Regions from separate parts of the Homo sapiens genome. Here region 2 is linked to region 1. Evidence: fine-mapped expression QTL. A gene starts in region 1. The other region holds a variant in brackets. All regions are shown on one strand. Distances are between the middles of the regions. Region 1 holds the start of CHCHD4 (coiled-coil-helix-coiled-coil-helix domain containing 4). Region 2 has its middle 91 kb from the start of IQSEC1.

Region 1 (15,117 bases):
CTAGTGTTTGGAGAACAGAGGAAGAAATATTTCATTCAAGAGCAGTGAATCAGCTTTAAACCCAAAGCAGCCGCCACACAAACCAAGTTTGAAGACTCTCCCATATGCCATCCCTATGTGAGGTGACTATCAAACTGCTCTCATATGCTAGGGGTAGCAAACAAAAGCGGATGGATAAGGGGCAGGGCAGGAAAAGAAGCACTGAAGAAAAAGAGTGTCCTGGGGTTGACCCACAGGGTTCAGAATGCATAAAAGTTGAAGGAAGACTGAGCACATTGGCAAAGTGAGTGTGCAGTGATGTGGGTCCTCAGCCTACAGATCACTGCAGCCCACATAGCTGATGCGGCCACAGGCCCCTGCCTCTGAAAGGCTGAGGACACAGGTGGTCTGAGAGGGACCACAGCCAGCACCCCCACTAGGCCTCTGGGCTCCTAATCGTGGCCGGAAGAAGGAAGGGTCATAAGGTGAGGAACACTGCAGCCGTTCCACTCCCCACAGTCCAAGAGGCCGGGGGACCATTTCCCAACAAGTATAATAACTGGAGGGGGGCAGTGGGAGGAGCACTTCTCAGATCTTTTTAACTGTGACCATCTGCAGTTTATTTTTTTAGGACAAACCCAACAGTGGTTAGGGTCAGGACTGTGGTCCTGTGAGGACCAGCATGGGAAAGCCAGCAGGCCTAAAGTGCAGAGCACCTTGTTCACAACCAGAGCCCTCACCCTGGGGCCTGGCTGCCGGAAGGTCTGAGGGCTCCAGGAAAACAGACCAGTGAGAGTCAAATGCATTTTATATTAGGAGCTTCTCCTCACTGGAGGCTGGGTGAGCACAGAAAAGCACATCAGTCCTGGCCAAACCAGGGTGGGTGCATTCACTGCCTTAGAGTGACCCCCTATGAAGTATTATCACCCTCAGCCCCCATGGAGTACAACAGAAAACCAAGGCTGAGTTAAGCAGAAGGGAGGTCCTTACAGCCCTCTCTGCTACACCTTGTAGCTGTCAACACTTTACCTCACCTCCCTAAAAACTTTGGCCATCAGCTAACCACACCACAGGTATGTGTCAGATATTCCCATTGTGGGCAAGGAGCACCTTGTCCTCAGTACCCCACACTGCACGGTGGGTCATCAGTTTCTCCAGCTGTCCCCAGAGAACAGACAGAGCCAGTCCATCTTTTGGTCCTCCGTGTGAGCTCATTCCTCCATCCTATCGCCACCCTGAGAGGGAGGTAGCAGCATCCCCTTTTAATGGTGGTGAGCCTGAGGCTGTGAGTAGTAACTTGCTGGGCCACACAGGACAGGATGCTCTGAAGTCTACACTGTTGGAGATCCTTTCTACACACCCATACTGCCCCGCACCAACATTTGCACAAGAATAATCGACAGCTGACACTGAGCACTTAGCATGACTGGGCACTGCCTGAGAGCTTGTGCACCTTGGGCAATGAATAAATACAATAAATTCTGACCCAACCTCGGCCCCAAAAAGCTTAGAACCAAGTGAAATGTTTGCCAAGTAAACAAACAAGATCTTTCTTGTACTTTCCTGGTGAAGGTGAATGACAAATTCTACAGACCAACTGACCATGCATTCTGATCCTAGAAGATCTGGGGTACTGGGACCCTCATCTGGAAGGGGATAGGAGGTGCCAAGCATTTAAGAAGACTTCTTCAGGTATGGCCAAAAGTGCCTGGCAGAGAGCCACAGTGCATGGCTCTGAGTGAGTGGCCACTGTGGGCGCAGAGGCCGGACCTGCAGAAACGTGGCCCTGTGAAAGCTGCGGGCATCTCTGATCACTTTATACTTTTTGTTTATATTTAGAAAAGTTCAGTCACAGCTATGCTGAGGGGAAAGCAAGGAAAAAGGTTTGGGCCCATGCTTGGGCTGAAGTAATTAAGGAAGAGGCTTCTGGAAGGAAGGGGGCAGTGACAACAAAAACCGAGCGACATCTCCAGTGAGAAGGACAGTTCAGGGGACAGAGGGAGGGCACTTTGGTGCCTTACGCCATGCCCACACTGCACAGGGTCTCTTACACTAGAACAGAGTAACAACAAAAAACCCTCAGCACACGGGGCCAGGACCCCCAACCCACTGGAGGCTTTTGCTCCCAGAGCTGGCCTCTGCCTCAATACCTTGCATGTCATCCAACAGAAGGCTGCTTTTCCCCTGTGGCTGACTGGGGAAAGCTTTTGGACCAGGCAGCCAGGACTTGTTAAAGTACCTAGTAACCTTGATTCTACTATTCTGGCCAGTTTCCAAAATACTCAAAAGCAATCTGTAAAAATGTTGAACGCTAAGCAGAATGAGCTGATGCAAATTTCGCAACTCAGCTCTGGCAGTTTTGTTTACCGAGATGGCAGCTCAGCGCAGCCCAACGGGGAGGCCCAGTCACAGGCACAGAAAGCAAAGGGTCCAAACGTGGTAAAGTATGAGGCCCTCCTGGGGTTTGCCATACATAGAGAGACCAGGCCTCACCCAAGAAAAGCTGAATCGAGCTCTCTGCCATGTCCATGTAGCTCACGGGCTTCACAGGTGACTGTGATACACAGCCAGGTTAGGAAACACCAGCCTAGCACAATCCCACTGAGAATTCCAGGTCCCTCCCACTGGGCCAGGTCCTCACATGTGCCTTCCTGGACATTTTCCCTTGCAGCACAGTTCACACTGGATCGAAAGTAGAACAGTAACAGCTGTATCTTTTACACATTTTTGTCCCATGCAATGTGTTTTATTACATCTGTGAGTTCACTGGTGGGTATTACTTTATCTCCATTTTACAGAGACCACAGGATCTGAGAAACAGACCAAAAGACATGCAGTAAATGAAGGCAGAACAGGAACAGGAACTCTGGTCTGAAAGATCTGGAGTATGTCCCCTACAAACTGTCCATTGTATGCCTGTCCTAGAGGGCCTTTGCTTTCTGGAACTTTTAAAAGTCGATTCAAGGACTGATGCAAGGACAAGGCTTACCTATTCCTAACAGACCTAACTGTGAAAGAAAGGACTGGTCAGACTAGTCGTAAGATGCCAACTAGTGGGACAATCAGCTAGACTAGTAGTTCTCATGACATTTGTCAGCAATTTCTCTAGAGAAATAAAATTTAAAAGTGCTTGTGTTTTTATTTCTAAGATAAGCTTTAAAAGCAGTTGAATATGCATGTTCTGAAGGAGGTGGAAAACTACCTTAAACCCTCTGGTGCACAGTGGCTTCAATATTTCAATATCACAGAGAGTCTGAGAACTGGAGTTCAAATCTGGGCTTAAGCACTTCCCACTGTATGAGCTCAGGTACCATCTGGGCCTCAGAAACCAGGCCTTACCACCAGCTCCACCTACCTACCTCACGTGGTTGGGGAGGTGAAATGAGTTTCTGCTGTCAGCTGGAATCCCACTTGACAGCAATTTTTAAAGGGCATCAAGGATAGCATGGCCAGGAAAAGAGACAATCACAGGCTCAGAGATGTCAATAATGTTTTGGAAATGGGAGAGCTGATGGTCGAGTGCTCTCTGACTTAACCAGTGAAGAAAGCTGAACTCAAAGTGCACAAGGAGGAGGTCATCCAGAATCAACTCAGTCCCCACCCCAGAACCTTGGTCAGAGTGGGGAACTGGAGGCCCGAGGGGTTACTCTGAGTGCAGGACTTCAGGGTGGGGCTGAGAACAGAACTGAGTGAGCAGTCAGATACAAAGACACCTTCCACCCCCAGCTGTTTAGTTTTACTCTCGGTAGAGCCACCCCAACCCGTCTTTCTCTCACATCTCCAACAGCAAATTGGAATGGCTCGATCTTCAAATACATCCAGAAAGAGCTGCATCCCTCACCTCTTCGACCCCATCTCCCACCATCACTCCCTGCACTCCAGCCACGCTGGCCTCTGCTTTTACTTGAATGTGCTGAGCACATGCCTACCTCTGGCCTTTGCACAGGGTGTTCTGTCCTCCAGGAGCACCTTCCCTTCCCTCAGGTACCCTCACAGCGATTTCTCCCTGCTTTCACCTCCTGCTCAGATGCCACCGTCCCTGACCACTGCCCATCTCCCTTATCCCGCTTTATCTTTCTCCAAAGTGCTTTTCGTCACCCAACATACTATGTATGTTTACCACTTGATGCCCCCACTGGAATGTCAGCTCCTCAGAGGCAGTGATTTTTGTCTATTCTGTTCATTGCAGTATCCTGAGAGCCCAGAATAGTACCAAGGACAAAGTGGGTGTTCAATATTTGTTGAAAAAAATGAATGGAGAAACAACTCTGGATTAGGGCTTGAAGACCCAAGTGTAAGAATTAAAGAGGAGAGAAACACGAAGGGTGGCTTTTCAGTCAACAGGGACAGGTTTATTTTAAACAAACCTGAGAGGGGCTGCTGGCTGAGTTAGGTCAGAGCCACACTCTCTTACAGACTAAGAGTTTTTAAGGATTCAGGGTGGGAGAGCTTATCAGTGGCTTGGACTGCTTCTGTGTCTCTTTGTTGTGCTTATCTGGGAGGCAGACTGGTGTGTCTGTTTCCATACATCTTTCTGCAGCTGCAGGCATATCCCCCCAAGACTGCTTTTAGCTTCCCTATCTTAGTACACCTGAAGGGAAAGGAATGTGCTTATTAAGGCCCACAGTTTTACTGGGGCCCATTGTATGAGGGTGAAGTTTGGCAGTCACCCAAGAGACTTTCCCCCCACCTCCCTCTGTGTCCCAGCTGTCTTGTCTGTGTTTTACTGTCTGCTCTTTCTGGCTGCTTGTAGTTAGAAGAGAAGTGACTTCCTTGAAATGCATGAGGCTAGAAAGGGAGCTGGAACTTAATGTGCCAGTGTTTGTCCGAGATGACGCTACTCCTGCTCTGTCACCCAGTCCCAGCAGAAAGCAGGAAGACAGAATGGTTATCACCATTAAGTGAGTGAGACCAAAAAATCCCTTGGATGAGTAGTTTGATTTCCCCCATGAAAGGGGAGGATCTTTATACACCAGAATCTCTCAGCTCATCCACCCCAGAAGGAATGCCCCTGTGTCCTGCAGAGGAAGCAGTTTATTGTCTCCCATGGATGCTGACTCCCCAGGGTCATGTTTGAGAATGGCAACCTGCACTAAGGACTTATTTTCTTTCGTTTTTGGCTAAGTTGATTCAATACACCTGTGATACAATTCCAACCACTACTTTCTGAAGCTCAACCCAAGAAAGAGATCTAAAGCCAGAGGGAGTGGTGCCTGTGGTGTATTTTGAGTGAGGTAAGGGGTTTCTAAGAGTTTGATAAATCTGACTGCTAAGGACTTTCATGTTTAGAATCTAACCCCTTTGAAAGATACAACTCCCCCATACAGAATCAAGTGTCTGTGAAGAATACACAAATGGCTTTCAGACAGAGTGTTAAGAAGAATGCAAGTGTTAGAAGTTTAGCTCAACAAACCTTCCTCAGCTCCAGCTCTGTGGTAGTACCTGGTGGTCACAGATGAATACGACACAGGCATCCAGTGGAGAAGACGGAAGGGGAGGGATCCTACCTTTGTCCCTGACAAAGAGCTTCAGGGAGGGAAGGAGGGGAATAGACATTCCAGAAGGAACCATCCTGGGCAAAGCCTGGAGGGCAAAAGGAGGGTTTTAAGTAGTGTTCGCTCACACGTGTTTAGGATTGCAAAAGGTTTTCTTAAGAAAGTGGCATTTAAAAGGATGTCTGAAGCCTCAGGAAGCCTTCTCAGACCCCATAGAGCCTTTCACTAAACGATCATAGCATGCTGGGCTTTTCCTTCATGTCACCTATGACAGTCTGTAATCATGCATTTGTCTGGTGATGTTTTAATGGCAATCTGTTCCACCATGCCAGGAGGGCAGAGAATGTGTCACCTTGCTCACCACTATATGCCCAATGGCTGGCACATCACGTGTGCTCTATAATTGTTGACTGAACAGGAGTTGGCAGGCTCTGCATTAGAAAGAGGAAACTAAGAAAGAAACACTATGGTGCTGACACAGGAGAAGTGTGGCTAGCCCAAGGCCCAGGTGCGAGGCTGAGAGCCCTTGAATGCCAAACCAACGAGTTTAACCTGAAGGCTGGGTAGCAGGTGGACCCCTGAAATAAACTTGTACAGGCAAGTGATTCACTCAGAACAGAGGGCAGGTAAATGCATGATTCAATAAAGATGTGGGCACCCATTGTACACCAAGCCCTGTGCTAGATGCTGGGGATTCCACAGCCCATCTGATGCTCTCAGCTTAGTGCGAGAAGACAGGCAGGAAGTAAGATGGCAAAAAATAAAAAAGGTCATTTCAGACAGTTCAGGATGTGAAAGACACAAAGGGTCAGGAGGTGATATTGGAGCTAAATGTTAAAGGATGAGGAGTCAGCCACGGAAGAGCTGAAGGCAGGATATACCAAACCAAGGGAATAGCCAAGAGGCTAGAGGCTGGGCAGCAAAAGGGTGGGAAGAGACCAGGCTGGAAAGGCAGACAGGGCCAGATCACATAAGCTCTGATACAGTAAGCAGTTTGGGATCATTTTTTAAAAATCCTATGGGAAGCATAAAGGATCAGTGGGGGGCGGAGGGGGGGAAGTTAGGGACTTCTTACGGGGACAGTGGTATGCACAAGATAAATACTAAGGAAGGCCTATAAGTGAGTGCTTTCAATTCTCACTCCTCTCCGAACTAAGAGAGATCTTTGAAGCAGGAAAAGATAGGGCTCCATGTTTTGGAGGCAGATGGACCTAGCCTCCCCTTTCCAGAGAAAACTGCCTCCTGTAAATCCTCAAAGAGGAGGGTCTTGTTTATCAGCACAGCCTCATTATACCCAAAGGCTCAAAAATTATTTGCTAAATGAAGTAAATTAGAGAAAGACTCGAAATTAAAAACAAGAGTGGTGAGGGCAGAGGACTTTTGCTTATGGCACACATTAAGTAGTAATCAGCGGAAATATAATAGTACTCATTAAAGAGTGAGTCTTATGGCTTTACGACCCAGAGGAGGAGAGGTTCTAGAAGCAGACAGCGCCACCAGGGAAAAGGCTCAGAATTTTAGGCTGAGCTAGTCTCCTAACTGGATGTGTAACTACAGGTAGGCCACCTCCTTCTCTGGGCTTCAGATTGCTTGAATTAACTGACGGAGCTGGAGTATTCACCAAAGAATTTCTGGGGGACTTCCAACTCTCTCTGTAGTTTTATAACCATCCATCCCCCTTCTCTGGCGCAGAGAAGGTGCTTCATGAGTATTTGCCGTATCAATGAAGCCCAACATCTCATTTTACAACACTGGATACCAGGGCCTGGAGGGGTTAGGTGGGAGCTCAGGGCCAAGGAGCCAGTTTGTGGCAGTGTGTGGGGAGGCCCTCCGACCTGTGGCTCGGGTACTTCTGAGCTCTTGGGTAGAGTAACATCAAGGAAGCAGTAGGTGGTCGGAGCTCAACTTTGGGGTGGGAGGTAGGCAGGGTTCTCCCTGCAATCCACTGGGCACTAGATTGGATAAGGCTCTTCTGGGGTCACAATGCCCAGGCTCAAACCCCAGCTCCACGATTTGCTGGCTGAGTGGCTTTAGCCATGTCTCCTGTGTCTAACTTTACTCTTCAGTAAAATGTGACCAACAACAGAGCCTGACTTACAAAGGTCGCAGCGAGATCTGTGAGACAAGCCAGGCAAGTTTCCTTGAACAGTGCCTGACAGGTAGCAGGGGGCTCAAAAACATTCCCGTTAGTGGAACTCCTAGCACTCCAGCACAGCACACGCTACCCCGAGTGGCAACTTTTCGGGACGCGCCTTTTAAAGGCGCGTGCAAAATGTAAACACGTGGGGTATGGCAGGAGCGGTAGTGATAATTAACCACCATACATTCCCAGTTTCGAGCCACACGCAACGTGCTCGGCACTTCCCGTGCCCCAACCGGACCTAGTTTACGACTTCCTACGCACAGGCCCCTCTGAGGTCAGGGTTCGGGCTTCACTGTGACCTTGGACCAGCCCCGTTCCCCCCAGAGCTTCGGTTTTCTCATCCGCAAAACAGGAGTAGCGACCCCCCAGCCGGCCCGCCTCCGAGTGTCCCAGGGTGGGCACCTGGGCCGCGCCTCAGGTGGCCCGCGCCCGGCGTGGTCGCGGGGCGCCGGGGCCCGCGTGTCTCCCGCAGGCCCTCGTAGGCCGGTCTCCGTGGCAGCCCGCCCTCCCTACCTTCCTGCCGGCAATAGGACATGGCTGCAGCCCGTCCCTGAGACCTTGCAGAAGCGGCGGTGGCGGCAGCTGCACCTTTACGCCGTGACCTCCCTCTCCTCTGGCAGGGCGGGCTCCTCCGAAGCCCGCGCGGACCCGCCCCCTCCCAGGCCTGCCCGCCGCGCGCCTGCCTCGGCGCCCTCGCAACCGCGGCCAGGCCAACCTCAGCCGGAAACTACATTTCCCAGCAGGTCGCGCGCTCCTCGACAGCTCTCCAGGCAGTAGAAACTACATTTCCCCGAAAGCTTTGCAGTGCGCAGGCGCATCAATGAGGTACTGCAATGTCCCGGACCGTATAGTTTCCAGGACGTCTCGCCGCGCGCATGCGCAGAAACACTGGGCACAGGGGGAGGTAACTGCAGTAAGTCCCGCTTGGCCCTGGAGTCCACGCGGATTTTCGAAGCTGGGGCTGGCAAGAGGCCGCTGGACACCACGCTCCAGTCGTCAGCCCACTTCCTAGCTGAACAGCGCGAGGCGGCGGCAGCGAGCCGGGTCCCACCATGGCCGCGAATGTGAGTATCCCCGGGCCAGCCGGGCCACACCCAGGCTTCCCCGTCGCCCTGGGGCTTTTCCCCGGGGTCCTCTAGGTCCATTTCGCCGCCTGGAGCTCCTCCGTGCGGCTAGGCCCGCATCTCCCTCTGCTCGCCGTGTCTGTGCCTTCGCCAGCTCATCCCTCTGCTCATCTCGCGGCCTGTCCAGGCTTCTTTTGTCCGTGTTCCTTGGCTCGCCTCGTCCTCGGCGTTCGTGCGGAGGCGGACTCGGAGGTGTTGCTCCCGTACTGGGATCTGCTTGTACGCCTCTCCGCGGCCCCTCCTTGCATTCCCAGTTCCCTCCTGTACCTTGGGGCCCTGAAACTTGCGCATTATGAGAGCTGGACGCGACCTCAGAGAGGGCGCCAGTCCCTTGGGAGGGAGGAAGGCGATCCAGCCCAAGTGGAGCTGTCCAGCAATGGACAGACAGGGCTGTCCAGGCGGGCAGAGAGCTCTCCGCCCTAGGGAGTCTCTGTAAACCGAGTCTGTGATGCTCCAAAAAGCTTAGGCTGGGCTGGGAGCGAAGGAGTTGGGGGAGAGGGAGCATTTCTCTACTGTCGGGGCCCCTCCTCCCCCTAGCAAGGATTTGGTTGGAGGAGGCCTGGCTGAGGGCTGTTCCCTCAAGGCCTCTTCTCCCTGCAACTAGCCTTTCTCGGGAAACTATTTAAGCCCAACATTCATTCAACAAGCAGCGCCTCCTACCAGGGCGCTGGGTGTGGGAGAAGCTGGTGACTCACCTCTCCCCTCCTCTGTGAAAGTGCTTCTAGGGCCCGCTTAGGAGCCCAGCCAGCCCCAGACACACCCTCCCTCCTGCTTTGGTAGAGTGTCCTAGCAGCTCTCCCCTTGCCTGTCACACCCTATTTCCAGACACCGCCTCTGTCCCCAAGCGTCCTCTCTGCCTCCCACACCCCTTGAGAGGCCAGGGTGTGCATCACCCACAGCCCTAGTACACTTTGTCTCGGGTTAGTATCATCCACACTCCCAGGACATTTCGGGCCCACAGGAGGGTTAGAAGCCTTGAATGTTGTACCTAGAAAAGCCTCAGAGGTATTCGGAGAGACTCAGGCTCGGCCAGGCGAGAGGGCAGTCAGGAGACCAGCCTGTCTGTAGTATGTGGACTCTTTGTCTGCTCCCATCACTACCACCACCATATTTTACAGATGGGGAACTTCCCTAGCAGGGGAAGGCACTTGCCCAAGCTCTCGTGGCCGGCTTGGCATGCTGTGACACGGAAATATGCTGAAAAGGGCAGGCTTTGGAGTTAGGGAGACCTGGGGGCAATCCAGATTCTTCCACCCAGTAGCTGTGTGGCTTTCATCTCTCCAGGTTTATGTAGCCTCATGGATCAGTTACTGTGATATTTAAGGGAGACTGCTTAGCACAGTGCCTGATGTGTGGTAGGTACTTAATACTTGAAAACAAGCCTGTCCTTGCAGGGTAGCACAAATGGTCCCAGTGGATAGAGATCATCTTGGGTACATTGAGACCTGACCCCTCACCAAGGAATATACATGCATTTGAGTATTCTCTGCTGCCAAGCATTTTTTGATTCATCCAGTAGCTGAGTACACATTTACAGCAGCCACTAGGCTGGGTGAGGAAGAAGATAGCGGGATGGAGCAGGGAGGCAACAAAATTCTCAATCAGTACAGCAGCAGCAGTACCTGTGGTGAAGGTACTATTCCCCTCTCCACTTTATAAGTGAGTAAACAGAATCAGAGAGGTAGAGCAATTTACCCAGGCTTACACAGCAAGCGATTGGTGAACCTAGGCATCAAATCCAGTTCTGTCCATTTCCAGGGCCTATGTGTCAGCCTCTGTTCCCACCACTCATTGCTCATTTCTTCTAAGTCCTGAGTGCTAGGACTGGGAGGGGATGTGTCACTGGGGATGTCCGTCTGTGTGTGCGTGTGTGTGTGTGTTTATATAATGTGTGTATACATGTAATACATACTATATGTATATATAAATATGTGTGGATATATAGATCCTTTATGATCCTCCATGTTTACTGGGAATTTTGGTTCAGAATGTGGGCTGGGTTTGTCATGTCACTGCCCACCTCACCCCTCCCCTAGCCTGAGGGGCACCCTCCTGTACCTCTCTTCCTTCCCTCCAAGGCCGTCTTTGAGCCCCTTATCTTGATGCTGGCTGAGGGGAGGCCCAAGAGGAAGACACGCCTTATTTTCCTATTGCTGCCTGCAGCTGGCTCCCAACATTCAGCTCACATTGTAGCCCAAGAGATGGGGAGCACAGACTGGAATGAGTAATGGGAGAGTAGCCTCCAGTCTGCCCGGATTTGAATCCTAACTCTTCCTCTTAGAAGCTGTGTGATCTGGGAAGATGACGTAACCCTGAGCCCGATTTTCTTATCGGTGAAATGGGGTCGTTATGACATCCCGCTCTTTGGGCTTGCCTGTGGGCTGGCCTGTGATAGACCCGGTGTGTTTGCCATTGTCATCATTGTGATGGTCACCTGCCCCTATGTGGTGATTCACTCACCTAATGTTTCCAAATGGCATGGAAAGTCAAGACGACTTCTGGATTCATGGACATCTGGTCACTGGAGGCCTTGGCTGGTGGTACTCAAAGACAATCAGAATGCGACATCAGCTTTGTTCAAGCAGAGATTCTGAGTCAAATCACTCCTCTGGCCCCCAATACCAGGATGGGGCCTGTCTTAGCTGGGCCCCACTTTACATCTTTGTGACTTTTGTCAGCTCACCCCCAGCCTGGTGCCAGCCCAGTATCAGTTGTAGGGAAATCTGGTAACATTTCTACTAGCTAACACGTGTCCAGTGCTTACCACGCCCTAGGCCCTGAGCTACCCAATAACTGTGTTCTTTGGTTCTCACCACAACCCTATGCACAGAGGAAATGGAAGGCACAAAGTGGTGAAGTTGCTTGCCCAAGACCCCGTAGCTGGTATGTGGCAGAGCATAAATGCAAACCCAGTTCTTCTGGCTCCAGAATCCTGCCCTAGACGATGACACTTTTGATCAGCAGTGGATGCACCCCAAATCATGCCTCTGTTATTGACCAAAGCCTGATCCACTCACCCTTGAGTTTGAGGCCCACTGTGAACCTGCCCAGAAATGCCTACCTCCAAGCCCTTTCTTCCTCCACTGCTCCCACCCAGCCAAAGCAGACAGGCAGCTGCTCCCCCAGAACCACTTCCTACTTCCTCATCACTGCTGATACGGTTCTCCCTTTAGGGATGCTCTTCCCCTAAGATCTGCCTCTAAGATTCCACTCAAGGGAGCCTCCTTGATACCCCAGGTGGAAGGGGTCACTCCTTGAGCACCAAGTCCACCCCCATCACAGGACCCTCTGTGTGACCTTCTAGTATTGTTTATGGTTGTGACCTCACTGCCCTAAGACTGTCTACTTCTGACCCCACAAGGGCTAGCACTGCCCTCAGAAAGCTCAGCCACTGTTTGCTGAATTTAATTAAAAATACATCTCTAATAACCTCTTTGTAAAATAGCTTGGCAGTTTCATAAAAAGTTAAACGTACATCTTCTTCACGAGCCAGCAGTTGTACTCCTAGGTATATTCCTACGGGAAATGAAAGCACATGTCTGCATAAAGGTTCATGTATGAATATTCACAGCAGCATTATTCATAACAGCCAAAACCTGGAAGCTGTCAAGATACCCATCCACTGACGAATGATTCAGCACACTGTGGTATAGTCATAAATGGAATACTACTCAGCCATGAAAAGGAACAAATTCCTGATAAACACCACAACATGAATGAATTGCAAAAGCAGTGCTCTGAGTCCAAGAAGCTGGGCAGAAAGGAGTTGGTGCCCTGATTCCATTTTTCTCAAGTTGTAGAAGAAACAAACTAATCTACGGTAGGAGAAATTCAAATTCAGATTCTCCCCATCCCCACCAGTTACCTCTGGTTGGTGGAGAGGGGGAGAATTGGCAGGAAAGGGGCACAAAGAAACTTTTTGGGGTGATGGAAATATTTTGTACCTTGCTTTAGATGTTGGTCAGATGGAATATACGTTTGTGGAAACCTGCCAAACTGTACATTGAATATCTGTGTGTTTTTACCACATACAGTTAAAACTAAAAAAAAAAAAAAAAAAAAAAAAAAATTGAGTATAAATAAATAGCAAATTTAATTTATTTTTAAAAACTAGTTTTCATTCTGTTACTGTTTCTTTTTCTTCAGTATTCCAGTACCAGTACCCGGAGAGAACATGTCAAAGTTAAAACCAGCTCCCAGCCAGGCTTCCTGGAACGGCTGAGCGAGACCTCGGGTGGGATGTTTGTGGGGCTCATGGCCTTCCTGCTCTCCTTCTACCTAATTTTCACCAATGAGGTAAAATGTCTGGGGTCTTCCTGTGCAGAGTGAGAGTCCCCACCATGTCAGAGAGCAAAGGCGATGAACCCGGAGGCTGGATTTGGTAATCAAGGGCCTAGATTTTAAAAAGAGAAAGGAGGATACTGAGTTAATCACAGTTCTTTCCATTGTGATCCATCCCACAGCTGATGTGAGCAGGAAGGGGAGTAGATCAGTTCACACACCTGAATATCCAGGGGTTAGCACCTGCCTCAGGCGTAGTTGGATCCAGGTGTTCATGCTGGGTCACCAGGAATCTCCATTTCTTCATCTTTTGCCTGTTTTTCTCTATTATGGTGTTTTTCTTGGGCAGGCACTTCATCTGTGATGGCAAATGTGGCCCCAGCAACTGGCCTACATCCAACCACTTAGCCCAGGGAAGAGAAAAACCATCTGTTTCTCTTCCTTTCTTTCTTTTCCTTTCTTTCCCCTCCCTCCCTCCCTCCCTTCCTTTGTTCCTTTCTTCCTTCCTTCCTTTGTCTCTCTCTTTCTCTCTTTCTTGTTTGTTTGTTTCTTTCTTTCTCTCCCTCTCTCTTTCTTTTTCTCCTTTTTTTTAATAGGGCCTCATGATGCAACAGTATATTTCTAAATCAATTTAGCAGCAGTTACAGGGCCATCTCTCAGTGTCCTGGCTTGGCTCTCCGTCCTCTGAATCAGTCTCCGTGTCCAGGGCGCACTCACATGTTCTGACTGGCAAGGTCTGGGTCCCATAATCTGACCAGGGTTCAGATAGACTCAGGTAAACCACATGGGCTGAGTAGGAGAGAGGAGAGCCAGGCATGGAGGCTCAAGCCTGTAACCCCAGCACTTTGGGAGGCCAAGGAGGCAGGATCGCTTGAGGTCAGAAGTTCGAAAGCAGCCTGGGCAACATAGCAAGACCCCATTTCTACAAAAAACTTAAACATAAAAATAAAATTAAAAAAAAGAAGGCAGAGAAAAATGGGGAGAAAGGGACAGGCAGGCAGAAACATCAGCTGTTCCCACCACTGGGGCAGTGCTAAGATTGGTGGGGGCTAGTGGGAACCAATGGGGCAGTAGGAAGAAGTCTCCCTGGGAAAGCAGGAATCTGGGTTCCAGTCCTTACTCTCCACTTGCTAGACCTCAGTTTTCCAACTGTACGGTGGGGAGATGGGTCTCAGCGCTCCCGGAGGCCCCATCCTACCCTAATACTTTGCAACAAGCACAGTCATGCTGAGCCACCCCTGAGCTGTTGAAATCCCCACTCCCCTTTGCTCCCAGGGCCGCGCATTGAAGACGGCAACCTCATTGGCTGAGGGGCTCTCGCTTGTGGTGTCTCCCGACAGCATCCACAGTGTGGCTCCGGAGAATGAAGGAAGGCTGGTGCACATCATTGGCGCCTTACGGACATCCAAGGTAGGTTTGGCAGGGGATGCTGACCTGCCAGTGGCTCGGGGCTCATCCTGGATGTTGTCTGGCTGAGGATTTGAAAGCATGGGCCTTGGAGATGGTCACACATGGGAGTGATTCCCGACTTTACCACTCAGCAGCTGTGTGGACTTGTCTATCCTGAGTCTCAGTGTCTTCGTGTATAAAATGGGGACGGTAATGGTTACAAGCTTGTGGCCAGCCTTGAGGATTTGGTGAGATTAGGTAACTAACGCCTTGGTACAGTGGCTGGCACTCAGGGAGGTGCTCTCATGACTCTGATGACCATGTGTGTCCAGTGCAAGGCCACAAAACTACCCTGGGCACCAGAGCTTTCCTGTTATTTGAACACCCTGTACGCTGTTGGCACCATGCCATTGGGCCATGCAGCCCAGGCCTGTACTGTGAGGGTCACAGTCACAGGCACTGTGTGTAAAGAACCTGGGACAGGGAGTGTCCTCGATTCTCCCCTGCAAAGCAGTGTAGGGCTCTCCACCCTTGTCCCCTTCTCTATTTCTTCCTCTTCCAGTCCAGCTTCCCCTGAGCCAGGCTTTCTGGGCTGACGTGAATGTTATCCTTTATTTTTTTGGTTTCTTTGATTCTGTTTGAAGCTTTTGTCTGATCCAAACTATGGGGTCCATCTTCCGGCTGTGAAACTGCGGAGGCACGTGGA
Region 2 (15,117 bases), 960 kb before region 1:
AAGCAGATGTTTAGACAAGGCTTACCAAATGTATTTTGGGATTTAGTCTAATTCCCCATTAGTAGACTCCCTTGCCCCCACACCAATATCTCTGCCTCATCTTCTAAACAGTCAGTTATTAATTCTCTACACAAGTTCACAGAAAACAAATCAAAACGCAAAATACACCCAGTCAGATAGGTTTTTGCCCAGTGACTTCAATGTGGCTCCTATAAGATCTTTCTACTTCCCGTGTAAAGAAAGGCCCAGTAGTGCCTCTGAAAGCAGGCTGAGGGTATCCAGAGGCCATTCAAGGGTCTCAGGGACCCACAATTCATAGGCCACACAGCAGAATGAACACAGCTGAAGAAAGCACTAGTGAACTAGAAGACCATCCTGAGGAAATTGCTCAGGATACAGCACAGAGTCAAGGAGATGGAAAAGTAAAGTCCACCACAGTCAAGAATGCCCAAGAAATCTCAATCATAAACCCAGGGGAGCAAAGGAAGGAAGGAGGACAGCCAAAAGGGCACACTCTACAAGCAGCTGCTACCACCTCCTGCTCATGTAAACATGGGCTTGCCTCAGACCCTCCCTCAGGATTCTGAGCAGCCGCGTCTCCACAGACTGTGGCAGAGGGAGAAGAAAGGAAATGGATGTTAACTGAATGCTATGACATGGCATGTGCTGTTCCATCTATGCCTCATTTAATTGGTCCATGGCCTTGAGGCTAAAGTCTTTGCTCCGATTTCATCATGGGGCAGAAATTAACTGTATCTCATTGGTCTTCACACCCTTAGTAGTTAGCACAAAGACACAGTAGGTGCTCAATGAAGACTGTTAAATGAGTGTGAAATCTGAGGCTTGGAGAGCTCAGGGGCTGTTGCATAGTGACATGAGGGTAAGACAAAGAGAAAGGATTTGAATTCAAGATTATCTGCCCCCAGTGTCTGTACTCTTTTGATTCCACCGTGCTAAGAAATGTCCACTCGCCTCCAGAGGCCGCCGGCTCAGCCCTCAGTCCAGCACCTCCAAAACATGGCTGGATAGCGGCAGAGGGACCCGGCCCAGCCCCAGCCCGTCTCTCACATTTGGAGCCTGCTCCCATTCCTTCCTGGAGAGAAAGAGTTCAGCTCTGTCTACCTGGCACAGCAAACACTCCCAGCTTTGTCTGCCACGTTCAGCAGTTTTCATACCTCCTTGTGAACAAAATAAACTGTGTGTTCTCATTTTGGGTTTGGGGAAAAAGGCCCAGTTAATTACAAAGGCTGCTTTGCCTTGGTATGGAGACAGAAAACTGGATTTGTTTGGACTAATTACGTTTACTCACACATCTTGGTTCCAGCTGAGTCAATGCTGGTAACCAGGCCCACCGTCTCCAGAATCTCCCCCACCATCCCCAAACAAAACAGTCCTTGGGCTCTCCTCATTGTCCCAGCCCTGAGCCTTGCTGTTGCCTTTGGAAAATGCCAGTCAACGTTCAGAGTCCTGACGGGGAGGCGACCTACATGGGACCACCTCATGCAATATGCTTCTAAGGTCAGGGCTGGGCGTGGTAATCCCAGCACTTTAGGAGTCCGAGACAGGCAGATCACTTGAGCCCAGGAGTTCAAGTTCAGCCTGGGCATCATGACAAAACCCTGTCTCTACTAAAAATACAAAAATTAGCCAAGCGTGGTGGTGTGCGCCTGTAGTCCCAGCCACTCAGGAGGCTGAGGCACGAGAATCGCTGGAACCCAGGAGGCGGAGGTTGCAGTGAGCTGAGATCACACCACTGCATTCCAGCCTGGGTGACAGAGTAGGACTCGGTCTCAAAAAAAAAAAAATTCTTCTAAGTGTTAGAAGCAAAATTTCTGCACTTCAGTCAGCTCATGCTTATGAAGGGTACGTGTCTGCCACTGGACACTGGCATACTTGGAGAAATTCTGTTTCCTTGGAGAGACCATATGTTCAGGCAGCCTGTTAAGATCATGTGGGCGCTTATTTAAAATGCAGATTCAGGCTGGGCACAGTGACTCACCCTGTAATCCCAACACTTTGGGAGGTTGAGGCAAGCGGATTACTTGAGGTCAGGAGTTTGAGACCAGCCTGGCCAACATGGTGAAACCTGTTTCTACTAAAAATATAAAAATTAGCTGGGCCTGGTGGCAGACACCTGCAATCCCAGCTTCTCGGGAGGCTGAAGCAGGAGAATCGCTTGAACCTGGGAAGTGAAGGTTACAGTGAGCCGAGATCACGTCACTGCACTCCAGCCTGGACAACAAGAACAAGACCCCATCTCAAAAAAATGTAGATTCCCAGACCCTGCCCAGACCTACTGAGTGAGGCATGAAAGGGATAGGGCCTGGCAATCTGTATTTTCAACAAGCACCACAGGCGACACTGACTTGCGAAGGCTTTGGTGCACAGCATCCCACCTTTGCACTCGAAATCCACGTCATCCTAGGCAAGCTGTTTTGTACTTCTCAGCCTCAATTTCCCAGAGCTGAAAAAATAAGGGCCAATAATAACTCTCTTACAAGGGTGCGGGTGGTTGTGCAGATGAGGTGAGACCCCCACCCACAGTGAGAACTCATTGAATGGAACTTATTCCTATGACTGAATGTAGCTGAGTTAATTTCAAGGATTTGACGGAGTGCTGGGGGAAAAAAGATAATGCTTGCACCCTGCAGAAAGCCCTGGCACTTTCAAACCAGTATCCACATTCTCTCTAGACCCTCCACCCGGTCATTCATTTTTGCAGACTCCAAACTCCACAAACCTCTTCTCTTCCTATGGTCCCTCTTCCATAAATAAATCATTAGAAGATTCACATTTGAGGGCCTCCAGAGCCTTCCTCTTAGTGGAGTCAAAAGCAGACACATCCTCCCGGGGAACAATGAGCAAAGTCCTACATTTGCAAAATGGTCAAAAAATGAGTCATTTCATTTGTGGAAAATGAATATATCTGATCTTGCAAATGTTTTGCCTCAGGGGAAAGTAGTGAGCGTGAATTCACAAACAGGCTTCTCCATGCAAAAGCACTTCCCTGCTGCTCCGGAGGCTAAGAAAAGCAAACCAGAAAGGTGGCAACTCCGATCATTTGAGTCTAAAGAACAAGAATCTCACCAAGCAGGGACCTTGGGGCAGGGCAAGAGCTGGTGGGGAGGAGGTGTCTCTCAGGGCTATCCTTAATTTTTTAAATTTATTTTTGGTAGAGACGGGGTCCGGCTATGTTGCCCAGGCTAGTCTTGGACTCCTGGCCTCAAATGATCTTCCTGCCTTGGCCTCCCAAAGTGCTGGGATTACAAGTGTGAGCCCCCAAGCCCTGCCCCTGTGTGTCCTTAATATTTAGCACAAGCCATGAGCTCTCAAGGTCAGTCATATTTTCCTTAGGCAAATAAAATCCATACACAGCTTCACTGATTTTTCAAGTGCAGAATCTCTGCCCATTAATTTTAGTGAGTGTTTGGTAAGGGGAGGGTGTTGCGGGGGCAGTCTCCACTGAGCATGGGAGTGGTCCATTTTTCCTCTTCCTTCTGGTTTCTGGCCTGAAAATATTTATGAGTCCTGAGTCCAATCAAACACACATGAACATGTGCCTGTTCTGTGCAAGGCATCCTGCCCAGGGCTCCCAGCAAGGCCAAGATGAATCCACTGCACAGACACCCCCTGGGTGCCTGTTCTGTGCCCCACAGGTGCTGGCACCATCGAGCCACAACTCAGGGGCCTCATCCCTGTCCTGGGGGTCTTCCTCTGCCTGAGAGGAAAGACAAATGCTTAAGTCATTTGGACACAAAGCAGAAGGGACTGGGATATCAAAAGTGAAGCATAAAAGGCCACAGAGACAACCAGGAGGCCACCCTGTCAGCCCCAGCTCCCCTGAAAGCTCCAGAAAGGCAGCTGCCATGGGGGCTCTGAGAAAGGAAGGGATCTTCGGGGGGTGGAGTGGAGCATTTTCTAAACATAGGAAACATCCTGAGTCACACACAGCAGGGGGCAGGCACGCAGGAATCATGGGCCGCATTTAGAAAGGCGAGTGGCATCATTTGGTGGGAGCTGGAGGTGCGCATGGGAAGGCTGTGGAAGCGCAGCTGCGCTGGTAGGGGTGTGGCGTCCAGGGACCACCAGGGCCACTGCCACAGTGTGTCAGCCCAGGGGGAGTGCGGGAGGAGAAGCGGGGGAGGGCCGTGGTCACACTTTAGTTTTCCAACCTCCCCTCTAGCGGGTCTGGAGAGGGTAGAAGCGCTCAGAGAGAACTGCAGTCAGGATCCCAGGTTTGGGGACGCAGACCCCGCACGGACACTGCTCTGGAAGCCCAGATCTGGTGACTCTCTGTCCAGAGGGTGGGGGCAGGGTAGATCTGAATGATCTGGGACCTCTGGTCCTGAGAAAAGGGAGGCCCAGCTCCTGGGGGAAGGGTGTGACCCATGACATAGGCCTGGCAGCCAAGTCGTCAGCTGCATGGGAAGAAACACAATGCCTGTGCATGATGGGGACAACGGGCCAGGGCAGGTAAAGCCATGACGAGTCACATCTGACCCCAGCATCTTAGCCTCAGCAACACTGTCTACTGCGATGTCCACACGGCAGGGCATTTTGGGGCTGGATTCTTCAGCCCTGGAAGAACTAAACACAGCCTTCCCTGCTGGAACTTCCATCCGCGATCTCCCTTGCCCGGCTTCTCCTGTCTGTGCACCCTGCTGGGAGCTGTGTGGCTCGGAGCTGGGACATATGCTCGGCTCTGTGTGCCAGTCCCCCTGCAACGCAGAGGCCATTCCTCATTCTCCCCAGGCAGCCAGTCATGCTCACTCCTGGGGTCCCTGCACATGCTGTTCCCCCACCGAAATGTCGTTCCCATCCTCCTCCCCCAGGGCTGGGTTCCACAGCGCCTGCCTGGCAAATGCTTTCCTGATGATCCGCTGGAGTGAACACCAGGCCGGGTGGGGCTGGGGCAGACCAGATCCCCACCACGAGGGTGTATTCACTCTACATGTTCACTAGCCCCCGCTCAGGTCACCAGTGAGAGCAGGCTGTTCTCAGGGCGACCCCGTAAGGGACCCGCTGCCCACCATGAACTTTCACAGAATGAGGGTTTCAGGTAAGCAGCTGCCTTCTTGGAAGACAGAGGGAGAAGGGCACCTTGGGGGGATTGGGGGAAGCTTAGATCCCAAAGGAGCCCAGAGAGGCAGGCCAGGGAGGGCCTGAGAGGCTGCGAGGCCATCTCCTTCCTGAGCCTGCAGCCCCTCCGAGTCCATGTGGGAATCCCCTTCCACCTCAGAGCCAGCCCCAGGGATTGGCAACCCACCCTCTCCCTAACCTGTTGTTTTGAATTAATTGTTTGAACAAGTATTACATTGACAGGGTTCAGAACCCTCAGGAATATTCCTAGGTCTGCCCTGAGGAAGCATACAGGCACTGGAGGCCCTGCCCCTTGCCCTCCCTCTGAAGGGACCATTTTAAGAGACAACTGTTTCCTTCCTGCTTCTTTTTGCTGACAAATTAAATAAGAATATACGTACTTACACCTGCCCTTTCTTACCCAAAGTAGTGTGAGATGTGTACTCTCACACCCTGCTTTGCTCACTTAATGGTACATTCCAGAGCTTTCTCCATCGTGCACCAGGGCAGTCTCCCCTCCTCCTCCTCAGGGCCACGCTGTGTTCCAGGGTGGAGCCATGTGGCGGTGCACACCTCAGGCTGCAAGGGGCCTGCTGCCCCCTCCCTCGGATCCCCAGACCCTAGCCTTTGTCCATCCATCCCCCCGGGCATCCCCCCCTTATCCCTTTAGCTCCCACTCTTGCCAGCCCAAGTGCACCATCCCCAGCTAGTCCCCTCACCTGGGCTTCACCCCTGCACACAGTCCTTCTGGGACCCTCTCTCTCTCCAGTTCCCCTTCTGAGCATGCCTCTGCTTCCTGCGAGACCCTGCCTCTCACTCCCTGGACTCTGGTTCCCTGGAGCCCAACTCCCTGCCAGTGTCCCCTGCTCCAAGCACATAGCCGACTGCCCCAAGTATAAGATTCAGCACCCCCTGTGCTGCCACCCAAGAGGCTCCCTGGGATGCAGCCTCCCCCAGATCTGTCTCTTGTTCTGCAGGCACCTGGAGGACCCCACTCCAGCTGGCATCCTCACGGCCAAGCTCAGGACATCTCATCTCCCCAGCCTGTAACATCACAATACAAACCAGCCACCTCAGGCCACCACCCTAAGACCTGGAAGTCCATCTGCTGCCAGAGGGGACTGGGGGTCCGTGGGCTCTTAACTGCCTCCTGGCCTCTCCTTCGCATCCCCAGCCTCACCATGCTGACCCCCATCTCCCATGACCATGGCCTTCTTGGTCCCCCAGCTCATGCCTTGAGAACTGCTGGGCCTCAGGCCCCGTGGCTGGGGCACTGACACCCCAGGTACTGTCTCAGACCAGACCCTCTTCTAGGTTCAGTCAGAGCCTCTGGCAGAAAGCCCACTCCATGTCCACCCCCACCTACCCTCGGTTGGTGGGGCGAGGATGGGCAGGGGCATTACGCCTGCCGTGGAGACACCCCTGCATTGTTAGAGGCTGGTTAGAGCCGGGCCCACCACCAAGCATCTTAGACTTGCCCTGACCC[C/T]GCCCAGCCCAGCCCCAGGGGTGTCAGGTATAGAAGTTTCTGGTCCTAGACGGGTCACAGCCTTGGCACACTGGGCCATCACCAGCCCCAGAAAGGAAGGGACAACCACCAACCTAGGTGATCTCTGCAGAGGTCACTCTAAACACAGGGAAGCTGGGAAGGGCTTTTGCTCCAGGATGCAGAGCCAACAGACGTGCTCTGCAGATCATGCCCAGGCCCTTGGGGCACACGCCAGGGCTGAAGGGGGCAGCCAGGGGAGGAGAGGTCTGACCTGGGAGACCCGCAGGGAGAAATCAAAGCACATGGTTTCATCAACGCCGCTCACCGCCAGGATTCAGACACACGGACAGAGGTGGATGAAGCACATACCTGACGCTCCGCGAGCTTTCTCCTTCAGACCTGCAACGAGAAGAGCACACGCTTAGAGCCCAGAACCCTCTGCTCCGGGAGACCTGCACAACGACACTAGATGTGGGGACCCTGAGGCCCCAGCTGCTCCCAGCATCCCCTCCCCAGCCTCAGCAGACATCCGCAGGCCCAATCCTCCGGGGTCTCTTGCTGCTGTTCCTTTGACCTGGAACTGTATTCAGAAAGTCCACTCTTCTTAGAAGTCTTAGGGTTCCTTTCCCACCCTCTTCCTGTTTCCATCACCTTGACTGCAATTGTTTTCCCAGGATTTGAATACACCCCAGGAGTCAAGAGCAAAGCCAGAGGAGGGGTCTATGGTTCCAGAACTCTGACCTGGGCAGCAACTAAATGAATGAATGAGTGAATGAATGAATGAATGAATAAGTGAGAGCGGTGCGACTGGCCTCACTGCATCCCCTACTTGGTATTTCCAGTGTTATTTCCCCAGAACCAGCTCTATTTTCAAGTACTCAGAAATCAATTACAACCATATTACAAAGGAGACAACCTTGAATGTCAAGAAATTGGACAATCAGATTGTATTGCGCACTTGAACTTTCACGAAGACTGTGACTACGCGGTATTGACAGTGATGCCTTCCTGCTCTGTACACCAAAGGAAAGGGACTTTGGGATTAAACTCCATGCAGCTGATGGCTAAAGCCTCGCTTGGGCTTCCTGGGTCTGAAGGAGCAAAGGGCTTTGAGCAAACACATTCAGGAATCTAATCCCTGGATGTCCCAAATTGGATTTTATTGCCAGAGAGCTAGAGAAATAAAAACTTACTTAACCCAGAGTCAGAGATTTGTCTTTTTGTTCATTGCCTTTTCAGTAACGTTCCAGAACGGAAGTCAGAGCACATGCTGCACGACCCTTCAGCATAGAAAGCCCCAGGGGATGCCTTTCCCACTGAACCAAGCTTGCCCACAGATTCAGACCCGGCCTCCCTTGGTGCTGCCCAGCCTGGTCGCGCTCACCAGTAGCAAATGAGACAGAAGGCAGGTAGTCCCCAGCAATGTGTGCTCCAGGTGCCTGAGTGCACACCCCTTGTTCTAGAAGGACCTTGGTCTCCCTCTCCAGCAATTCTAATTCAGCATCAATGCACAGCAACTTGGATCACATGGTCCCCACGGCAGCAGGTGAAGTGGTGATGTGAGATGGGAATGGCGCACAGACACCTGTGGCATCTCCTTGACCCCGGGGGCCATGGGACAAGGTGCAGACCAGCCCCTGGTGGCTGAAGACCCTCCACAGAATTCCCAGGAAGCCTGATGATGGGGAGAGGAGATCCCAGGAGCAGCTTTTGAAAGTTCTTATTTTTTGTTTTTGTTTTCCATTTGATCATAGCCAGGACAGAAAAGAAAGCAAGCGGGGGGGTGGGGGGTGGGGGGGTGGCGTGTGTGTGTGTGTGTGTGTGTGTGTGTGTGTGTGTGTGTGTGTCTGTCTGTCTTCACTTCATCGCCATCTTAGGTTGCTCACCCTGGGGAAGCCGGCTGCCCTGTTCTGTGAGCAGCCCCTCTGGAAGAGGCCCAGGTGGTGAGGACCTGAGCCCCCTGCCACCAACCATGAGTGTGAGCCCAGAAGCAGATTTTCCACCCCTCGCTGCTGCAGCCCCAGGCAACATCATGACTGCAATCACATGAGCGGCCCAGAGGCAGAGCCACCAGCCACACTGTTCCTGCATTTCTGACCTCAGAAAGGGAGAGGTAGGGTGCCCTGGTCCACTGTGCGCTGACCAAGAAACACAGGGTGCAACCGGGCCCCGCTTACGGACATGCCTGAGTAGGCAGCTCCTTTCTCGCTGTCCATGGCAATGACACCACAGGCTTATGTGTGTAAGTTCCCTAATAAATGCTGTGGACTGGTCACCCAGGCGTTCAGGGATCCTTTCTTCGGAATGACAACTGGCTCCAGCTCAGGAAGGTTTGGGGCACTCCTACAGGAAACTCCCCTGCCTCTGCTCTTAGGGTAACTCCAACTATGGATTCAGCAGGACAGAACACAAGACCATCAGCATTTGCTGTCTTCAGCTCCTACGTTTTTGGGGTCACTTGTTACATGGTAATTGATAGCTAACACACAGTTCCTGCTCTGCGCCTCTATCCCAGATCTCTGTCTTGTGGCCTTCACTCAGGACCACGTGAAGCTCTCTATTTATGTCTCTTAGGATCTATCTGCCTCAGTAGGACGAAAATGCCACAAGGGTAAGGGTTTTGTCACATTCACTGCAGGGTCTCCAGTGCTTGTTATGTGGCTGAGGCATAGCAGTGCAGTCACGCCAGGAGCTCCACATTCTGGGACGCCAGGGGACAAGCACTGACCCTGAGCCATCAGAGTCTCCTGGGTCCCAGGCCCAGCTTCATCCCTTACTGGCTTCCAGGTGGCCTCAGTAGTCACTTAATCTCCATGAGCCCCAGTTTCCTCATTTGCGGATTAGGGATGATAGCAACAATTGGCCCCTAAAATGTGGTGAGGAGATAAGTACATTCCCAGCACAGAGGCTGATGAATAAAGCTGCTTCTCTCACCACCTACCCGAGGTGTGGTTTGAGGATGTGCTGACCTGTGGGGGCCTGCAGGGAAGGAACATCTGGAGGAGATGGTGCCTCCCACACACTGGAGCCCAGCTTGGGGCCTGGCACTGAGCAGGCTGTAGGAAGTGTCTGCTGTGGGAAGCCAGGACTGCACTGACCCAGAACCCACACTCCAACAGCAACACACAGTGGAGTCATCTTTTACACCAAGGATGGCACATGCAGAGGATGCCCTGGAGCCCCTGGCATAACATCGCCCGTCCTATGGCCGAAGGAGCAATAATGTGGGGAGAAAAGCGAGAGGGGCTGGGCAGCCCCGGGGTGGAGGATGCCTGTGCGTGTGTGCATGTGCAAACATGTGTGCATGTGTGTACGTGTGTGGTACACTGTATGTGGGTGTGCCTGTATGTGCGTGTGTGTGTGCCTATGATTATGGCGGCACTCAGCATGGGCAAAGAAGCAGATGGTCAGGAGCATCCTGGAGCCTTCTCGTTCCTGCAGATGAAGCTGAGATCTAGGAACAGGATGATCCCCGATGCTTTTGCATGGGCTGTCCCTGAGGCAGACCTGGAGATAAAGATTCAGCTAGGAGTTTATTTGGGAAGTGAGAAGAGAGAAGGGCTAGGGAGGTGAGAAGAGAAAGAGAAGGGGGCTAACAATGGCTGTTATCAAGCTGCCCAGCACCTCACTATATCCACCACTGTGGGAAGCTGAGGCTCAGTTTACCTGGGAGCCCTAGAAACCAGTTCAAGCTGCCTCCAGCAATCTTATACCAGGGCCGAAGCAGCTGGGAGTGGCTGAAGGCTGCTCCTGGGGAGGAGAAGTCTGCACGCATCAGCCTGCCTCACAGGTGGCCGAGGAGCTCCCCCAGGCAAGGAAGGGGAGGTGCTGACAGGTGGACGTCAGCCTGGTGGCACTTGGGGGGGCAAAAGCAAGAGGCTCAGACAGCCAGTGCTCCCCGGACAAGGAGAGTCTCTGGCTGTCCTCACAAGAGCATAGAGGATAACCAAGCCTTTCTCCAGGTGGCCTTCAGACGGCCAAGGCTCAAGTGATAGTGTTTGTCGCTCTGGTTCCTCTTCTGCAGTGGAACCTGCAGACTGCCCCCTTCGCCATGTGTGCAGCCCCTCCTTCCATGCTCACTGGACTTGAACCTCTGGAAAACTGAAATCTACCTTTCCCAGATGCCCTTGCAGCTCTGGTTCTGCAAATGTTCTCAGCTTCTCTGGGCAGAGGCCTGTCCAGACTGAGAAGGTGGGCATGAGCAGCAGGGTGGAGAAATGAGCTCCCGGCTGGAAGGGAACACAGGCTTCTGGTTCTCCCAAAGCAATTGGCTCCAGTTTCCAGGTTTAAGCCTCACAGGCAGTGGGGTTTCCATGGCAACAGTCAGGTGGATTTAGGTGATGGTCCAGGTTGTGTTGTTCCTGGCTATGGGACATCCAAGCTCGGTCCTGGACTCTGAGTCAAAATACATGGAAATAAATCCCCCTTAGCTCAAACTAGAAAGAGCAGATTCTGTTGTCTGCAACTAAGTGCTGTGACTGATCCAAATTCAAGTTCTCAAATCACCACGATTATTTTTCTTATATGGCGTGATGTAGAAAAGCGTAAGAAAAACAAGTAAAAATCATCTCTAATCCTACCACCTGGAGGTAATCGCTATCACATTTTTGCATGTATGCTTATGGGCTTTGTTTCCTGTCCATTTTTTTATACAGTGGAAATGACAGTTTACATCAGTCTATGCCCGTCTTCCTCACTTAACACGGATCATAAGCACATCTCAGGGGCCTCATCCATGAGGCCTTCAGCAGCTCCCCAGTCCAAATCAGGTTCCTCTACCTTCACTCTGCAGCAGTCTGCCCTTGGAACAAAATTCAAACTCCACACACAGCCCACAAAGACTGCAAGGTCTGGCCCTGCTCAGTCCTCCACCTTCTTAGGGTTCCAGTTTCCCCTCGGCTCCCCACTGCAGCCACACCCTTTCATTCTGCCCTCACACAGCCAAGCTCCCCAACACCAGCTCTAGGGCATTGCTGTTCCGTCTTCCTGGAAGATCTGTCCTGTCCCTGGCTTTTGATTTCAGTGGCTCCATCTTCTAATTCAGATTTTACTTTAAATACCACCTCTTAGGACAGGCCTTCCTGGTATCCCTCCTATCTAAATAGCCCTCCCCTGGCCCCCCAGATTCTCTGCCATATTACCCCATTCATCCTCCTGTGAACATGTGACAATCTGAAATTGTCTTATTTGTCTACTTGCTTATTGTCTGTCTTTCCTAATAGAACGTCAGCTCCATGAGAGGAGGTACTGTATCTGTCTTATTTATCACCATATTCCTTATAGAGTTCCTGCAAAATTCTTTTAAAACAACATGTATCTCTCACCATATACAAAAATTAACTCAGGGTGGGTGATATGGTTTGGGTGTGTCCCCACCCAAGTCTCATCTTGAATTCCCACGTGTTGTGGGAGGGACCCAGTGGCAGGCAATTAAATCATGGGGGCAGGTCTTTCCCATGCTGTTCTTGTGATAGTGAATAAGTACCATGAGATCTGATGATTTTATAAGGGGGAGTTTCCCTGCACAAGCTCTGTCTTTGCCTGACGCCATCCACGTAAGATGTGACTTGCTCCTCCTTGCCTTCTGCTATGATTGTGAGGCCTCCCTAGCCATGTGGAACTGTAAGTCCATTAAACCTATTTCTTCCCAGTCTCAGATATGTCTTTATCAGCAGTGTGAAAATGGACTAATACAGTAAATTGGTACCAGTAGAGTGGGGCACTGCTGTAGACACCAAAAATGTGGAAGCGACTTTGGAACCAGGTAACAGACACGGGTTGGAACAGTTTGGAGGGCTCAGAAGAAGACAGGAAAATGTGGGAAAGTTTGGAACTTCCTAGAGACTTATTGAATGGCTTTGCCCAAAATGCTGATAGCAATATGGACAACAAAGTCCAGGCTGAGGTGGTCTCAGATGGAGATGAGAAACTTGTTGGGAATTGGAGCAAAGGTGACTCTTGTAATGTTTTAGCAAAGAGACTGGCAGCATTTTGCCTCTGCTCTAGAGATTTGTGGAACTTTGAACTTGAGAGAGATGATTTAGGGTATCTGGTGGAAGAAATTTCTTAGCAGCAAAGCATTCAAGAGGTGACTTGGGTGCTGTTAAAGGCATTCAGTTTTCTAAGGGAAGCAGAGCATAAAAGTTTGGGAGATTTGCAGCCTGACAATGAGATAGAAAAGAAAAACCCATTTTCTGAGGAGAAATTCAAGCTGGCTGCAGAAATTTACATAAGTAATGAGAAGCCGAATGTTAATCCCCAAGACAATAGGGAAAATGTCTCCAGGGAATGTCAAGAGGTCTTCACAGCAGCCCCTCCCATCACAAGCCCAGAGGCCTAGGAGAAACAAATGGTTTTGTGGGCCAGGCCCAGGGTCCCCAAGCTGTGTGCAGCCTAGGGACTTGGTGCTCTGCCTCCCAGCCATTCCAGCCATGGCTGAAAGGAGCCAATGTAGAGCTCAGGTTGTGGCTTCAGAGGGTGCAAGCCCCAAGCTGTGGCAGCTTCCATGTGGCATTGAGCCTGAGGGTACACAGAAGTCAAGAATTAGGGTTTGGGGGCCTCTGCCTAGATTTCAGAGGATGTATGGAAACGCATGGATGCCCAGGCAGAAGTTTGCTGTAGGGGCAGGGCCCTCATGCAGAACCTCTGCTTAGGCAGTGTGGAAGGGAGTCCCACACAGAGTCCCTACTGGGGCACTGCCAAGTGGAGCTGTGAGAAGAAGGCCACCGTCCTCCAGACCCCAGAATGGTAGATCCACCAACAGCTTGCACCACGTGTCTGGAAAAGCTGCAGACACTCAATGCCAGCCAGTGAAAGCAGCCGGGAGGGAGGCTGTACCCTGCAAAACCACAGGGACGGAGCTTCCAGAGCGCCAGGGTAATGCAGCCAACCAAGAGGGCCGCTCTAGTCCAGTAGGAGGTTTTCACCACAATATTTGGGTCTTTATATCATAAGCTATTAGCTTTGAAGCAAGAATAAAAATAAGAGACACGGCAGCCAGCTATTAGGCAATGCAATGGGTGCCAGAGTCAAACAGTATTTAAAGATGGTCCAGCAGCCTTTTGGAGTCTTTAGAAAGCCTTGTGCTAGGCGCGGTGGCTCACGCCTGTAATCCCAGCACTTTGGGAGGCCGAGGTGGGTGGATCACGAGGTCAAGAGTTCAAGACCAGCCTGGCCAACATGGTGAAACCCCATCTCTACTAAAAATACAAAAAAATTAGCCGGGCATGATGGTGAGTGCCTGTAATCCCAGCTACTTGGGAGGCTGAGGCAGGAGAATAGCTTGAACCCAGGAGGCGGAGGTTGCAGAGACTGGAGACTGCGCCAATGCACTCCAGCCTGGCAACACAGCAAGACTCCATCTCAAAAAAAACAAAAAAAACAAAAAAAGAAAGCCTTGTGCCCTTCATTTCTCCCTGAGGAAATCCGCAGTGTCACTGCTATCCTTTCATTATGCATGTACAGGGCCTCAAATGCACCATCTCACGTGATACAGGGAAACTGAGGCTTAGACAGATGAGGTGGTCCACTCAAGGGCACACAGACTGTCAAAGCAGGTGGACACAGGAGAAAAGGTTTTCTTCCTAAACGCTGTAATTGACTCACCTCCAGAGGCAGATTTCCTGGGAGGCTACAGAGGCTTAAACCATTTGTACCTGCTCTTTCTCAGAATGTGCATGTAATTCTGAGTTCTTTCTCTAAAGGATCCACCTAAAACTAAGTGATTGTAACAGTTAGACCCCACAGACCTGATCAGCCCCAACCACTTCTACACCCCCAGGCCATTTCCCACTCCCTTCTCCCCTCCATTTGAGAACCTCAAACTCAGGGATGTTGTTATAAATTCAAAATAGGTACCCGAAGACCTCAGCTTCCAGAGTGTCTGCGCTAGTGCTCATTTGCAATTTCTTCCCTATTCCTGATGATTTAGACACTTGTTATGCAAACAACATCTATAGAGACCCATTCCCTATAATGCTTAAATGCCTCTTTCAAGGCCTTCTTTACCTTAAAATAAAACCAAATCCTCCTCCCTCTCCCTGGGGCCAGAGCTCAGGGGTCCCAGCCTGGTCTGACTTCAGCAGAGAGCTTCCTGCCCAGGGCTTGGTGTGTGAGAGGCTCCCCGACTGGTTAGAGGTAAGGGGCAAGCGTCCCGGGCCAAAGGGTCAGGGGTGGCAATCCGAGAGGCTTCTGGGAGGCGAGCTGAGGGGCAACCGGCACCTGGACAAGAGCACAAAACACATCCACACTCCCCCAGGAGCCTGGGCTAAGCTCAGTGCAGAGCGGTGAGTCTAAGCAGGCCCCACAGGAGCAGGTGGGAGAGGCCACACATCCACACGAGCCCATAGCCAGAATGTACCCTGCAGAAGCCGTGTCTACGGGCAGGACTTAGCTTTCCTGTCCAAATAGCATTTGAGGGATAAACATTCGTGACACTTTCTTCTTCCCTCCTTCCCCAGCCAAGTCCTCCGGGCACAGCAAGGCTCTAAGGCCTCCATCCTGCCATGGTTGGGGGAGGTTTGCGGCTGGGGAGTAGATGGAACCATGGCCAG

What was found.
Region 2: its variant is fine-mapped to the expression of CHCHD4 in pancreas (GTEx, PIP above 0.99).

Annotation. Positions count from the first base shown.
Region 1 is chr3:14,116,525-14,131,641 of GRCh38, forward strand. It overlaps CHCHD4 (coiled-coil-helix-coiled-coil-helix domain containing 4), which reads right to left and starts at 8,346. Exons shown (of 3, transcript NM_001098502.2): 1 at 8,131-8,346. The coding sequence starts at 8,152. TMEM43 (transmembrane protein 43) reads left to right here and starts at 8,528. Exons shown (of 12, transcript NM_024334.3): 1 at 8,528-8,681; 2 at 12,888-13,037; 3 at 14,298-14,432; 4 at 15,056-15,117. The coding sequence starts at 8,670. RefSeq lists enhancers at 5,029-5,763, 5,764-6,499, 7,103-7,202, 7,971-8,705, 8,573-8,772 and 2 more and silencers at 7,763-7,812, 7,823-8,382.
Region 2 is chr3:13,157,170-13,172,286 of GRCh38, forward strand. It overlaps a transcript of IQSEC1 not described here. Among named protein-coding and RNA genes, the nearest start is that of IQSEC1, 91 kb to the left of the region's middle. RefSeq lists enhancers at 4,172-4,697, 14,277-14,801, 14,802-15,117. The variant C/T (reference allele first, on the strand shown) is at 6,566.